Linked DNA regions of Homo sapiens: region 1 is linked to region 2. Evidence: fine-mapped expression QTL. Tissue or cell type: whole blood. Region 2 holds a variant in brackets; the other region holds the start of a gene. All regions are shown on one strand. Distances are between the middles of the regions.

Evidence for each region. PIP is the estimated chance that this variant, and not a neighbour inherited with it, causes the effect.
Region 1: AOAH starts here. The variant in region 2 is fine-mapped to the expression of AOAH in whole blood (INTERVAL, PIP above 0.99).

Annotation. Positions count from the first base shown.
Region 1 is chr7:36,721,002-36,729,244 of GRCh38, reverse strand. AOAH (acyloxyacyl hydrolase) reads left to right here and starts at 4,751. Exons shown (of 21, transcript NM_001637.4): 1 at 4,751-5,223. The coding sequence starts at 5,097.
Region 2 is chr7:36,745,103-36,753,515 of GRCh38, reverse strand. No RefSeq gene overlaps it. Among named protein-coding and RNA genes, the nearest start is that of AOAH, 25 kb to the right of the region's middle. The variant G/C (reference allele first, on the strand shown) is at 4,875.

The DNA.
Region 1 (8,243 bases), 24 kb after region 2:
GGATATCCATATGCTCAAAAGTAGAACTAGACCCCAATGTCTCACCATATACAAAAATCAACTCAAAACAGATGAAAGACTTAAGTGCAAGACCTGAAAAACTATAAAACTAGTAGAAGGAAAAGGTGGGAAAATGCTTCAGGACATTGGTTTGGGCAAAGACTCTTTGGGTAAGAACTCAAAAGCATAGGCAATAAAAGCAAAAATAGACAAATGAGACTACATCAAGCTAAAAACTTTTTGCATAGCAAAGGAAACAATCAACAGAGTGAAGAGACAATCTGCAGAATGGGAGAAAATATTTGTAAACTACCTACCTGACAAGGAATTAATAGCCAGAATATACAAGGAGCTCAAACAACAGCAAAAAACCTGATTAGAAAATGGGCAAAGGATCTGAATAGATATTTCTCAAAAGAAGACATTCAAATGGCCAACAGGTATATTTAAAAATGCTCAGCATCATGAATCATGAGGGAAATGCAAATCAAAGTCACCCTGAAATATCATCTCACCCCAATTAAAATGGCTATCATCAAAAAGACAAAAATAACTGATGCTGGTAAGGATGCTTTGAAAGGGCACTACTAGCACACTGTTGGTGGGATTATAAATGGTACAGCCCACTATAGAAAACAGTATGGAGCTTCCTCAAACAACTAAAAATAGATCTAATATATAATCTATCAATCCCACTGCTGGTTATGTATTCAAAAGAAAATCAGTATGTTGGAAAGGTATACTGACATACTTTGTAGTATAAACCCATGTTTATTGCAGCACTAGCCACAGCAGTCAAGGTATGAAATCAACTTAAGTGTCCATCAACAGATAAATGGATAAAGAAAATGTGGTACATGTACACAATGGAATACCATCTGGCCATTAAGAAGAATGAAATCCTGTCATTTGCATCGACATGGATGAAACTGGAGGTTATTATGTTAAGTGAAATAAGCCAGGCACAGCAAGACAAATACTGCATGTTCTCACTCACTTGTGGAAACTAAAGAAGGTGATCTCAAGGAGGTAGAGAATAGAACGATAGATACCAGAGACTTGGAAGGGTGGGAAAGGGTGAATAAAGAGAGATTGATTAATGGCTACAGAAATACAGTTAGATGGAATAAGTCCTGGTGTTGAATAGCACAGTAGGGTGACTTTGGTTAACAACAATTCATTGTATATTTCAAAATAGCTGGAAAAGAGAATTTTAAATGTTTCCAAGACAAAGAAATGATACATATTTGAGATGACGGATATCCTAATTACCCTAATTTGATCATTACACATTGCATGCACGTATTGAAATGTCACATGTACACCAGAAATATGTACAGTTATTATGTAGCAATTTTTAAAATCTTGATTTAAAAAACTTCCCCCAAAATTTCAATGCTACTTGAGAAGAATAATGTGAATTCATTGTCAGCTTCACATTCATCTAACAGTTAATATTATGTTTTTAAATTCATGTTGTCTCTCTAATTCTCACAATTTTCTTAAATATTGACATTATATGCCCTATTCTATAGTAAAATAAACTGGTATTCTGAAAGGTGGAGCAGCTTACCCAGGGCACACAGCTACTAGGAGGGGAGCCCATGACACAGGCCCCCCATCCTAGCCCAGAGCTCTTTTAATGAGCCCCCATGCATCCTCAGCATGGGTTAATTTACCCTGTCCTTAGCAGACAGCAGAACAGAATAGAATGAGGCTAGCGTTAATAAGCTCTGACTGAGGAGGAGGGGAGCAGCAGAGGGCCTGGTTTTGGTAGATGGGAACTGAGGACTGCTGTACACAGTCCTGGGCAGCCAGGAGTAACAGGGCAGCATGGACCTGGGCCTTAGAGAGAGGAGAAAGTCTAAGACGAGACACGTGTTGGTGACAGTGCCAGCTTTTACAGGATCTCCCATCACCCACCTCTTTTTTTTTTTTTTTTTTTTCTGATTAAGGAACTTGCTGTGGATGAGGTGGTTGAGGCCAATGTGGTCAAAAAATATTCAGGAAGCATATTCATACTGAACAAGCAGACCACAGGTGCAACACTTGGGGATCACAAAGCCTTAGCCTTCCATGGCACAGGGGAAAGCAGTGGTTTGAATCAGAGCTGTTTGAGTGAAATCAGTAACAAAGTGCTTCAGGGAAGAAATCTCATTTTCAAGAGCAGATTTCGAGATGATTCAAAATTGGAACATCTGACAGTGGGGTCCTGCAGGAACATTCTCCAGGGCCTGACTAGTTGTTCTAAACCACAGGTAGGTCCAGGGCCTTTTGGCAAGCTGTGCAAAGATCCCAAGTCATTTGCACTCAGTACTTGATGAGCAAAGGCAGCCCTGTCAGGGGCAATGATACCAGCCAGTGTGAAGGACAACTGTGCAAATGGGAGGGTCCACTCCATCCTGGTGACGGAGAGGGATGTTTTGTTCAGTGGTCTGTGCACACGTGCACTTTGTTCCAGCTTCTGCTGGCGAAATCACTTTCTGATTTCTGCATTCTTCCTTTGATCATGCCCAGTAAGAACTCACCCTCCAAGCATGAAAAATCCTTCCATTACTGAAAACCTATGTGTCAGGTTTTACCATGATATATTCCTACGAAGTAGATAGTCTCACCTCCCTTTTCTAGCTGAGGACTGTCACCTCTGGAAACAGGAAGGGGCTTGCTCAATACTGCACAGCTAAGTCAGCGACTCCCACTGTGACCAGCCCCGAAGCCTGAGCACACTAGAGAGTTTCAGAGCCGACCATCCCTGGGATGGTTGTGAATGGCACTGCCTGGCCCACATACATGCGATGAAGGGCACAAAACTTGCATTTCCGGCATACCAAGAAATCCCTCTCACTCTAAGAGTTTCCAGACCTGCTCGCAGCTATACATTGAGACCAGGAGAGCCTCAAGAGGCCCAAAGCCTGTGTCAAATGCTCTTCCAGAAGCCCTCAGGAGAGTCCTCACCCATTTATGGATTAGACAAACTAGACCACACACTCCTGGAGTGCTGTAGCACAGCTGGAAGGTATTCAATAAATCCTCCCTTTTCCTGTCCTCACCATTTCCCATGTATGACATGATGGCCTACAACTACCATGGGCGTCTTGGAATTCTCTTGAAGCTGGTCTGGGGTGCAGGTTTCATCACACTCCTGCTAGAGTCATAGACAGATGCACTAAGCACTTACTTCTTGCCAGCCATGCTGCTTTGTTGTTTGGATACATCATGTATTCGAGTGCTTCCAGCAGCGCATTGGAGCGGATATTACCATTATCCCAATAGAAATGAGCTACTTGGGAGGCTGAGGTGGGAAGATCACTTGAACCCAGGAGGTCAACACTGCAGTGAGCTGTGATCACACCACTGCACTCCAGCCTGGATGAAAAAGCAAGGCCCTGTCTCAAAAAACAAACAAACAACAACAACAACAACAAAAACAAGACACTGAAGGGGGGAAAGTTACATCACTGGTCTAATATATTACTCAGAATAAACAGTAGACATGAGACGTAAGCATGAGCCTTTCTGTCTTCACAATCTGAGTTCCTAATCAATCAGTCCTTTATTTAGCCTCCCTTGGAAGTCTCTGGAACTTCTCTAGGCCTCACCCCTGTGGTGGTCCTAGTGACCCCAGAGCTCCCCTTAGTCACAGAGTGAAGAACTGAAGCAGCAGCACCTTAGAGTCAGAGGAAGTCACAGGCCCATGGACGCCTAACGATATCCTCAGTATTGGGCTGGAAGTGTAATTAGGGAAACACTCTGACTTGTGCTATCTCTGCAGCAGGTTTGGGAATTGTAGCCCCATCGGTGCTTGTAAGACTAATGACTGCACAAGAAATCTTCCAACCATAAAAACTGGTATTTCCTACATCCTGGAAAGGATGCTACTCTAAAACTTTGCCTGCTACTCCAAATGCTATTTTTTTTAATTGCTAACAATTTAGATAGCTTCTATAATATTTCAAAATTTGTAATAAGCTCCCTCAGAGCCTAAGCAGAGAGAAACAGAATCTCATGACCTCCTACACTTACCTAGACTGTGGTACTTTGGCCCTGTCCTCTTATCTTGACTGAGAATGGCATATGATTTTGTTTTATCTTATTTTAGAGAGAAACATTTAGATTATATGTCTTTTATCTATGATCTGGTTCCGATTTTTTTTTTCCCTCAGAAAGACAGTGTTCAGTTCTATTCTTCAGAGCAGAAAATCAGTCTCTTAACAAATCATCCACAAAATGCACTTCGAAATTCTGGAGAAAAAAAAGATGCATTGTGCACAGCCTAGCAACTGTGAATTGATTAATTCTAACCCATGTTTTTTCTCATTAGGTCTAAAATCCCACCATGCTAACTGCCCATTATTTTCTGTACTGTTTATTTTCTGCACACCAAATAAAAGGCCTTGACCCTTCAAGGAATAACCCAATTTCTCCAGAGGAAAGATATTATTTGACCAGAATATCCTTTTACAACAAAATAAGGATCACAACCTTACCATATAAAGCTGTTGAAAACAAGACTAAGTAAGTTCTGAATGTAACCAATTAGAATTTCTACAATATGTGGGTGCTGCTGATCAAATTGTTAAAGGGTTGTGTGCTTGTGGATTAGTTTTTTTTTTCTTTTTTCTTCTCAGTTTTGGCTTTAGTATCGTTTTGTTTTGTTTTGCAAGAATGAAAGGGGAAGGGCCTCCTAACCAACCCAACAGATCAGTTCCGGCAAGCCTCGAGGCTCACGGGGTTTATGCACACTAACTTCACTGAGCCAGGGAGCACGGAAGTTGTGCCACTGTGCAACTTGGGTTTTCTTTATCCTGCAGTCTTTACCTCAGCAGAACCGCACACCACAGACTCCCTCCAGCTCTTTGTGTGTGGCTCTCTCAGGGTCCAACAAGAGCAAGCTGTGGGTCTGTGAGTGTTTATGTGTGCTTTTATTCACTTCACACTTATTGAAAAGTGTGTATGTGAGAGGGTGGGGTGTGTGTGTCAAAGAGAGTGAGGAAGAGAAGGAGAGAGAGATCAATTGATTCTGCAGCCTCAGCTCCAGCATCCCTCAGTTGGGAGCTTCCAAAGCCGGGTGATCACTTGGGGTGCATAGCTCGGAGATGCAGTCCCCCTGGAAAATCCTTACGGTGGCGCCTCTATTCTTGCTCCTGTCTCTTCAGTCCTCGGCCTCTCCAGCCAACGATGACCAGTCCAGGCCCAGCCTCTCGAATGGGCACACCTGTGTAGGTATGCAAATAAATATTTTTGTATTTTCTATGTAGACATAACAATGGGATCCAGTACTTTGCTTGCGTAATAAATCACATATTTTATTAAATCAAGAATTGTAAGATTCCAGGTAAGGCACCAGTAACCTCACTGACACAGAGAAATGTGGAGTCTAAGAGTAGACATTGACACTACATACATCTATGTGAATAAAAAGCATACTAGTTTAAATTGGGCATAAAACTCTTCCACCTCATTGGCGATTGGAATTTTTTCTTCTTGTATAGGTAACTATTATTTCAGGCTATTTTAGTCTGAAATTTTTACTGCTTTTCATGGGCTTTGACCTCATATAAACACATCTGAGTTTGAATCACTGCCCTCCTCCTACCCTTCTCTCCCATTTCCTACTGGCTGTGGAAACCTGGAGCAATGTACTTAACCCTCTCCATGCTTCTGTGTCCTTATTGGTGAACTGAAGTGAGTGAGACCCATCTCATAGGGATACCATGGAAATTGTGACCATGCATGTAAATCTGTGGCATGTGCACACAGTAAGGACTCAACCATCTTAGCTTCCTTCCGTCTCTCAGAGAATCCAGATTTGGCGATCACCTGGAGACGCTGAGCGTTGATATGGCTTCTTGGCTCATCTGTTAATGAAGTGTTTTATTTCCAAGAGGTTTTTTTTGTTTGTTTTTTTTGGATGAGAGCAGGAAGTAAGGTAAGATCTTTGATATTCACATTGTAGCTCTCATAACATGGGAATTCTCATAATAGTGGTGGCATTTAGATGGTACAGTCCATGGAGCCACATAGACTCAGAACTCTGAGTAGTAAGTAATTGTTCAATGAGCAGACCTCAAAATACAATCCTAGCTTGAGAAGCCAGGAAAATAACTCTAGGATAAGTCTGATGGCTACATGCTGCAAATGGAAAATCTGGACACAGATTCTGACACTTAGGAATTGTTTCTGGAGACAATATGGAAATATATCTGAATTTGTCCTACTTCCTCAAAATCATGGCCTCAGGTCATTGTACATGTTAGGAGATGCATCTCTACTTCCAAAGTCCTTTTTTTTTTTTTTTTTTTTTTTTTTCTGAGATGGATTATCGCACTGTCACCTGGGCTGGAGTACAATGGTGCAGTCTCAGCTCACTGCAACCTCTGCCTCCCTGGTTCACACAATTCTCCTGCCTCAGCCTTCGGAGTAGCTGGGATTACAGATGCACACCACCACACCCAGCTAATTTTTTGTATTTTTAGTAGAGATGGGGTTTCCCTATGTTGGCCACACTGGTCTCGAACTCCTGACCTCGTGATCCGCCCCCCTTGGCTCCCAAAGTGCTGGGATTACAGGCATGAGCCACCGCGCCCAGCCTCCAAAGTCTTGTTTTAATTAAGACCCAGATTCCCCAAGACTATTTTCCAGAGACCTGAAGGCAGAGGTGTGTGGTCCTTTGAACCATGCCTGGGAGATCATCCTCCCCCAGTATTTGGTTTCCTTAAATAACTATTTGCCACCTTTTCATTTTTCTCAAAACAAAACCCTACTGCCCATCAAATGGAAATACACTTGAGAAAAGCTCAGATGAAATCAGTTTTACTTCTGGGCTCATTGCAAACTAAATGTTTGAGTTTGGGCAAGTTGTCAGGGCTGAGATCCTTGGACCTTCACTTCAGTAAAATGGACAGGAGGTACACATTCCTTTCTCTGCCCTGTTCCCAGTGAGGTCATAGAGGGTAAGAAGGAGGTGTTGGGGAGATTTCAGGATGGGGTTGCTCTGGTTTTTCTATTATTGCTGCATCAAAAATTACAATAATAACCATTTGTTGTATTATGATTTTATGGGTGAAAAATTTGTTCGAACACTGGCTGGTGATTCTTCTTCTCCATGTAGGAGTGACCGAGGTTAGGAGGTGGTATTCGGATGGTGGATTGATGGATCTGGGACTGACAAAAACAGCTTCACTCACATATTTGGCACCTTAGGGGTGAGGGAATGGCTAGAGGGTTGGCTCATCTGGGAGTGCCATCAGAGTGCCCACACATGGCTATCTTGGGTAGTAGGCTTTCTTACCTGGCAGCTTAGGAATCCCAGAGAGAATTCCAAAAGACAGGAATTAGAAGCTGCCAATCTTTCAAGTTTTGGGTCTGGAAACAGGCACAGCATTACTTGCCATCTTCCATTGCTCAAAGCATTCACAAGTTCCTCCACCCAGACTCAAAGGGAGGGGGCAGAGACCCTTCATTTTGATGGAGAGGGTCAAGAAATGTGTGGTCATCTCTATCATTCACAGAGGTTCACTTTGGTTGCCCATACAAATTCTCATGGCCCCAAGGGCTTGGAGACTCTGTTGCTGATTAGGTTTGAGGATGATTTAGCATCCATTTTCCCAGCAACTCCCAACTTCTTCTGGTTAACTCTGCCTGGGTGACTTATTCACCTGTTGTCATAATAGCAAGAAAGGTGGGTGCAAGAGGAGTCCAGTCTTGTGATGAACACTTACTGAGCACTGCCTATGTGCTGAGACAGGGGCTGAAGGTGGTCCAACTTGGTGCTTCACTGATTGAAGTTGGCTTTTGGGGGAGACAGGATTAGAAATGTGTGTGCAGGGGAGTTTATTGAGAAGTGCTCTTGGCAAAAAGACGAGCAAGAGAGGAAGGCAGTGGGGTTGGCAGAGAGAAGCCGGGCTGTGCTGCAGCCATAAAAGAAGTCCCACTGAGAGCTCTGGGACTAAAATAGCTCTTCAGAGTTGTCCTGAAGTAGGTGCAGGTCTTGGAATTCCCACATCAAACAGTCCCTCGATGTGACCTGACCACAGGGGAGGGCTGTAATTTTGAGACATCTCCCGTTGGTGGAGACAGTTCTGGCAAGGGACTCTGATGCTGGCATAATCCTTCAGACCAATGGCTCCAGAAGCTGGGGAGCGAGTGTCTCCTGATACGGGATCCTGGGGTGTACCTGCTGGAAGGGTTGTATGTGGGAAGCATCTCAGGAAGCAGTGAGGTCCGCTCTCTCGCAGCTGGTG
Region 2 (8,413 bases):
AACAGGCAGACTTCCACTTCTGACCATGATGGAGTCGTTGGTTTCAGACAGACCTTCCACTGAAAATAACTATAAAAGATGGGTATAAAAACACAACAAGAATAAGTACAACCATTTGAAGGCATCAGCAAGATACCAAGGAAGCTAAGTTTCCCCAAGAGCCTGGAGTTTCAAAAGACAAAGTGAAGATCCTGTAAAAAAGAAAAACACATCAAGGTGAGCCAGGCATTCTGTGTTCAAATGTCTCTCAATGCATTTTCTGCCCCTAAGTTGTGCTGGCATGGGACTACATAATGAGAGAGAAAGAAGAAAGCAGCTGCTGAGAAGGTAGAATCTAAGTAGAAATTCTGATTTTGTGAAGTGCTACAGAGAAAAATAAATGAGTTGAGGACATGCAAAGGAGAAGCATAGCATTATTACCCTGCTTCATAGAATCCCTCATTGTTATGGTTTGAATGTTCCCTCCAAAACTCATGTTGAAATTTAATTGCCATTGTGACAGTAGTAAGAGGTGGGACCTTTAAGAGGTGATTAGGGGCCCGGGCGTGGTGGCTCACGCCTGTAATCCCAGCACTTTGGGAGACCGAGGCGGGCGGATCACCTGAGGTCAGGAGTTAGAGACCAGCCTGGCCAATATGATGAAACCCCATCTCTACTAAAAATACAAAAATTAGCCAGGTGTGGTGGTGTGTGCGTGTAATCCCAGCTACTCGGGAGGCTGAGGCAGGAGAATCGCTTGAACCTGGGAGGCGGAGGTTGCAGTGAGCTGTCATCTTGCCACTGCACTCCAGCCTGGGAGACAGAACAAGACTGTCTCAAAAAAAAAAAAAAAAAAAAAAGAGGTGATTAGGTCATGAGGCTCCTCCCTTGTGAATGGATTAATGCCTAATGTCATTATTGTAGAAGTGGGTGAGTTATCAGGAGTTCGGCCCCTTTTTCTTCTCTGTATCATGTGCTTGCTTGCCCTTTCACCCTTCCACCATGGGATAACACACAGAGATCCTCGCTGGTTGCCAGCACTGTGCTTTTGGACTTCCTAGCCTCCAGAACAGTGAGACAAATAGATCTCTTTTCTTTATACATTACCCAGTCTGAGGTATTCTGCTATAGCAACAGAAAACAGACTATGACACCCATGTTGTTTCAAAGTTATCTGTCTTTACTCTCACTGTATGTGAGCAGAACTAAAATTAAATGGAAACTTTCATCTAAGCTACAAAATCTTAGTGGTATAAAGGATTCTGTTAATCTTTTAGTTCAGTTATTCCCAAACCCCACTGATTCATGGACTCTACACAAGTCATCACCAAGTCCATGAGAGAGGCCTGGTGTAGTGAACATTTAACAAGTGCTGCCAGATGATTCTTACTTTCAGGGAAGTTTGGAGTACAGTGATCTAGGGCAATGATTCTCAGAGAACTGGAGCTTGCATAGCAACATGAATATAACTTGAGGTGCTTGTTAAAAAATAGAGGTTCTTGAGCTTCACTCTGAGTGTCTCAGTTTGTAAATTACCACAGGTGATTGTTGTGTGCAGGTAGGTGTTGACTCCAGGTCCAGCCCACCTCTCCCAGTCTCCATCCAATGATTGTCCAGCCCACTCATGACTGTTTCCAGAGAGGGGACTTCTAGGCCCCTTTCCCTGCCCATGGAGGTCACTCCTTGAATATTATTGTAAACCTTTGTCAAATATTGTCTCAACAAATTTAGGAATGTATATGCCTCTCACACCCAGTATTAAGACACAAGAATCAGACTTTTAAACTCAATTTTTTATGATATCATTCTAACAAAAGACTGTTGCCACTCATTTTGTCAGGAAAAAAAAATGCATTTTTGACTAATCTCTTGTGGACGGCCACGTTTATAGGTCCTTTTGGGGGTGAATGGAATTTGTGGATCCATCTGAAGACCACCATTTTGCTTCTCAAAGACTCCAAGTGTTAAGTGGTTGCTCTATTAGGAAAAAAACTTTTTTTTCTTCCAGAGAGGAGAATTAAAAGATATCCAGAGTCAACTTGACAGTGCAGAGCATGGGATCTATCATTCATAAACACCTCCACAGTCTCACAGAGAAGAGGAGGGAAAGGCAGCTGTCAATAAGAACATGGACCCATTTATTTGGCTCCCAAGGCAGAGGTGCAATGTAGGATTTTAACTTTTCCCGTGGATAGCTGGTGTTGACGAAGAGAAGAAACCTTACTTGAGACAATGAAGTTCAGATCATAAACATTCACAAGCATAAGGGAAAGCATGTACAATCATGATGCAATTCCCTTACACTCTGCTTCCACTGTTTGCTAATGAGCAATTTTATTTCTCTGAGCCTCACTCTCCTCATCTGTAAGATGGACTAGTCACACCTTCCTTACCATCCAGAGTAAATGGGAGAGTAAATGAAAACTGCCTAACTCATGAATGGCATTCAATCTACAGTAGATATTTTTCAGTTGTTAATAATGTCCTTACCAGGTCATTTTCAGATGCTCCTGAGTTAGAGTCAGTCAGGAATTTCTTTAATTGCTCCAAAAGGACACAGCATTGTCAGCCTCTTGGCTAGTCCATATTAATGTGATAAATTGGTCCCGGCAAGTGGGCTTCTAGCTTGTCTTCCCTCATGTCCCAGTCCTTGGTTTGTTTCCATCTCTCCATGTTTTTCTAGCTACTCCAGAAGCGAGGTCCTAACTGTTCTTGCCCTCCCCCTGTCATCCCTATCCTTCTAGATGCTTAATTCCAGACCATAAGGCTGGGCTCTGACTACCTGTTGTTGATGGTTTACTCTGCCCTCCAGGGGACCTCGAGGGTTTCTGCATGCCTTGTGTCACCCCTGAGAAGAAAGCAAACCAGTGACCAACACGTTCAGAGAGTGGAACTTCCCATGGAAGGGCAAAGCGTTGACTATTTCTGCTTTCTCAGAATGTTTTTTTGGGAATCTCCGCTTTTGGTCCCTGGTCTTTTGAGATATCTCTTAGGTCATTCTCTCTTTATTGGGTTGTTTTTCTTTCTTCTCTCCCAAGAAAGAGTGCAGAAAGTGGACCCAGCATTTCCCCAAACTGGAGACATTCCCTTAAACCCAGAAAGCCTTCAAAGAACCAAGATGAGGTACAGGAGAGAAAAGATACAGAGCATGAAACACACCAGCACCGAAAGTCTGGCTTCTTTAAAACTCCACTCCCTCTGGCTCTTCCTTGGACCCATGATCTGTGTTTCCTTGCTGGAGATCTAATAACTCTCCTGGGAACACCCCTGACTCTGACTGCCTGCCTAGATTTATAACTTTTACTTGCTCTAGGGGCTCCCTACCTTAACCACCCCTCTTCTGATGTCTATATACCACAGCTGGTCCTTCTAGATTTGAAAGCTCCCAACACTAGCATTAGAGAGAGAAATGTTGGTTTTGCCGTATGTCCCAGCCATAATCAATAGCTTCTCACTAACATGAGAAGTTATGTGCTCACTTGTATCTGGCTCTGCTTATGATGGGGAAGAATTCAATGGGCTTAGAGGATGAAGTCTATAATTCTATTCCCCAAACCACTTTACTAGAGAATTCTAGGCTGTTTAAAATCTCCACTGAATATTCTTGAAGAGAGGGAGAAAAAGAAGAAGGAAAACCCTTATCTGCTCTGATTTTGCATCCTGGAGTCTGACTCACCCCTGCAATGCACTAAAGTCAGGCAACAAAGAGAATCCTTTAGCGAATCCCTTGAATCATCTGTTCTAACACCAACCAGCTCCTGACCTCAGTGTTGGGCCCCATTCCCTGCCCCTTGATCTGGTATATGAATGTGATTTGCTTAGTCACAGTGTCTAGCCTCCTCCAAGGACTTGGGTTTGTGCTACCTGTGGGTTCTTCTCCTGCTAGACTTTTTTTTTTTTTAGCTTTAAAAACATTGTTCCAATTATGATGAAATATATGTAACAGAAAATGTAACATTTCAGCCATTTTAAATGTAGAGTTTAGTGGCATTAAGTACACTCACATTGTTGTGCAACCATAACCAACATATCTCTAAAACATTTTCATCTTCCCCAAACTCTGTATAACCATTAAGCAATAACTCTCTGTTCCCCTTTGCCCCCAAGCCCCTGGAAACCACCATTCTACTTTGTGTCCTTATGAATTTGAATGCTGTAAGTACTTCATGTTAGTGGAATCATACACGATGTAGTCTTTTATGTCTGGCTACTTTCACTTGGCATAATGTCATCAAGGTCCAGCCATGTTATAACAGATGTCAGCATTTTATTCCTTCTTATAGCTGAATTATATTCCATTGTATGGATATGCCACATTTTGCTTTTTTATTCGTGCATCAATGAACACTTGATTTGCTTGTACCTTTTGGCTAAGGTAAATAATGCTGCAATGAACATCGTTATATAAATATCTCTTCAAGATCTTCCTTTCAATTCTTTCAATTCTGGTATATCCCAGAGTGGAATTACTGGATCATATGGTAATTCTATTTTTATTTTTTAGAAGTTCCACCGTATTGTTTTCCATTATAGCTGCACCATTTTACATTCCCACCAACAGTGTCCAAGGGTTCCAATCTCTCCACATGCTTGCCCACATCTGTTATTTTCTGTGTGTGTGTTCTTTTTTAATAGTAGCCATCCTAGTAAGTATGAAGTGGTATTTCACCATCATTTTGCTGCGCTTCTTGACTAGCTCACCCACTATCAGCCCTTCTTGACTACCCAGCCCTAGGAGGCAGCCTGCCATGCTAAAGTCTTGTCTGGACCTATAGCAGGAGGACAGTAGTTCTTAGAACTCATAATAGCTCCCTGATACTGTCATTTGTTGAGCCAAATTGTTTCTTAAATCTAAGATATATAATATTTCACATGCACAGTTAAGGCACAGACCT[G/C]TGAGGAGGGAGTGGTCAAACAAGATGACTTACCGAGTGTTAGATATCTGTGAATGAGCACCATCTCCAGTTCTCCATTGCAAACTAAAGAAGCCCTCTCTCAGGAGGTTATGCAGCTGTAGGGCTCTTTATGTTACATGTAGCATGTCAGTAGAATAACCATAACGATGGGATAGAAAAATAGTGAGTAAATGAAAAAGGTAGACTGGCAGACTGGGGTTCATGTTGGCAGAGAGATGACAGGGACCGAGAATGAAAACAGAAACCACAATTTTCAAAACATAAGCCTCAGTTTCGAAGCAGGCCAATTTCTCCCGACCACACCGTGGTGGGCATCACAGACGATCTAAGTTCAAACCTTGAAACACCAGCTCTTTCAGGCCCATTTGTTCCCAGATAAGACCATAGAGAAATTGACCTGTCAGTAACTCCACACAGACTTGTGAATCCCAAAGATAAGACCACTTACTTTTCCAGAAACTCCCCAGTTTACAGAATCTGATGAAATCCTGCCAACACCATCCTGTGACTAACTCCAGCCCCCAAAGCTTTATTGGGTGCCCTTGTCTTAATCCACCCTTTTGAGATGCCTCAAGCTTCCCCACAGCGTGCAGTTTCCCTTGCTGTGGCGTTAATCAGCCTAACTTTGTTGACTACAGGTGTGTTCCAGGTGGTCTTAGGCTACAGGACATTGAAGAACATTAAATTACATGCAATGCCTAAAGCTAGTTCTCTGCAACTCCATGACTCTGGAAATGACCAAAGCCTCTCTTTCTGGCCACCTCTCAATTTTCCCCCAGCTCTCACCTTCTCTATCCTCTTTCTCCAAGCTCCTGAAATGCCACACTGGACACCCGGTACTTGTACTTTTATTTATGCAGGCTTCTTACAAAAATGAATAATTAACGTCATGAGAAAATTCTCAGGCTGACCTGAGAATAAAGCAATCAAGACCACATTAAAATTATATCTTTTTTTCCAAGACTCATTAAGGAGCTGTGAGAAAATCAGTACACCAACCTGTTGTGAAACCCCAATGTAATGTTTAACTAATTTTCTGCCTTTGAGCAATATCCCCACTATTAGCTTTCTTTTTTCCTTACTGGCAGTTTTACTTAATTTCTTTAAGGTGACATAATGAAAGAGTGAAAAAATGTACCCTGTGGTTCTGCAGCCACCCCCTACAGCTCCACTTTCTGACTCATGGCCAGGAGAGTGCTGGCTCTGTTTTTCCAAGTCCAAGGGGGAGGAGGGTACCTCTTCTGTCCACCCCTACTGCTTCCCGAAATCACTCTCTCTTCTTTCTGGACTTTCCTTAATTTACTGGGGAGAGTGACTGATCCTTCCTGGCAGCCTAGGGTGAAGCCTAGACCCCTTATTCGTACCTCCCCGCTTCTCTCCCATCCACAATGTTGTTTTGAAAGCTGTTTTGTTCCCTTGTCCTCCCTTGCTCCTGGTGGAATTGATGGGTGTACAGGAGGCAAACCAGTCCCTTCATGGCAAATTTCAACTGAGACAGAGAGAAACTTGGCCCTGCAACACGTAAGCTCAGGAGCTGTTGGCCTTCCCAACAAAAAACGAGGCAAGACAGTCCAAAGCCAAAGGGAGGATGAAGTAGAGGCTCAGAGGAAAGTAGAAATGACACCCTTCCTGGGCTCTTTACTGTGTCCCCCGGTCCAGTCCTGTGCCTTCCCTAGGTCCTGCAGTCTCTGTTCTCTGATTCCATGAGCCTCTGCAGTGCCCCATCCATTGCATTTGCTCAAGTTGGCTCCCATGGCTTTCTGTAACTTACAACCAGAAGAGCCTGAGAAAGGCGCCAGGCTTCTGTAGCTCAGTTTCATGACCCAGGAGAGCCTCACTCCCTATAAAAGGTGAGCGTGTTCCCTGGTCCCACTAACTGCACCAACCCCCTTGGGAAGCCGTCCCTACTCCCTAAACTAGCCTCTCTTGGCTCTGTGCTCCCTGCCTCTCCTGTCAGGCTTCTGCCATGGCCCTTAGCCCTTCAGCCTGAGGTCACTCACAAGCCTGACTAAGAGATCCCACTGGCAGGCAAGGGCTGGGTCACCCCCACTCCGGACCGCTCCATCCTTATCATTGTTGCCACGTGTACTGGGCTGCACACGCTGCCAGCTTGCTTGCTCAGTTTCATAAGAGGTTGCTTCCTTATTAGGAATTTTCTGTTCTTCCTGTGCATGATGTGCAGGGCAGTTACACTTCAAACTCACCAGTTAGTAATACCTCTGTTTCTGTGGGTTGGAGTCTGCTTTTGGGGGTGGCCAGGCTGCTTGTGCATCAATGCTTGATCTTCCAGATCTCCCTACCCCTTCCTTTTCAAGATGACCTCTGGGTGTGGGGAAATCGGGGAGTCCAGGGAAGTGAGGAGGAATGGACTCTAACTCTACGTATTTGATTCCGTAGTCCTTTGGTGTCCTGGAAAGGACTACATGTGGATGGCCCCTATACCATGCTGACCTCTGGAGCTGAAATCTGTAGCTGGCGCATTTGCAGTTGATCTCTGGGCTCCATCTCAGCCCCGTAACCCTCCCCAAAGTTTTGGCCCCAACCAGGTCCTTGCTGCAGCCCTGACCAGGGTACTGTGCCCTCCCCCCATAGGTATGGGATCTCTTTGCCCCTGGAATAGCAGACCTCATCAGCCACATCCTCAATAACTTCTGCTTCTTCTACAGGCTGCGTATAAGGCTTGGGAATGCTAACCCAGGCTCCCTGCTACATCTGCTGTACCACACTGTCTACTCTGCTGCAGACACCCCTCCCAGGGTCCCAAACTCCACAGTTTTTTTTTTTTTTTTGAGATGGAGTCTCGCTCTGTCACCTAGGGCACCCCACCCTGGGTCCCAAACACCACACTTTTCACTCTGCTGCAGGCACCACTCTCAGGATCCCAAACAGGAAATCCCTCTGCTCCTGGCTACCCTCTCAATCCTTCTAACACCTGGGAGCTTTGGTTTGGGGCTGAAAGGTGGAGTCATATATTTCTGACTGTGTGTTCACCTGTCTCTGATCCTCTTCTCTTCCCCCACTTTGCTGCCTCTAAATGGACAAGCTTCCCTCTCCCATTTTGTTTGACCTGAAACCCTCTTAGGTCATTCCCTTCCCCTTACCTAGGCCAGTGCATCTTCAGGCCTAGGTGCCCAAGGCAAAGCCTCTATGGAAGGAATTATGTGCTGAATCCAGTTTCAATCAACGTGAAAGCTGCAGAACAATTAAGAGTAGGGACCGGCCAGGTGCCATGGCTCATGTCTGTAATCCCAGCACTTTGGGAGACCAAGGCAGGTGGATCACCTGAGGTCAGGAGTTAGAGACCAGCCTGGCCAATATGATGAAACCCCGTCTCTGTTGAAAATACAAAAATTAGCCAGGCATGGTGGCGCGCGTGTGTAATCCCAGCTACTCAGGAGGCTGAGGCAGGAGAATTGCTTGAACCCAGGAGGCAGAGGTTGCAGTGAGCCAAGATTGTGCCATTGCACTCCAGCCTGGGCAACAAGAGCGAAACTCCATCTCGAAAAAAACAAAAACAA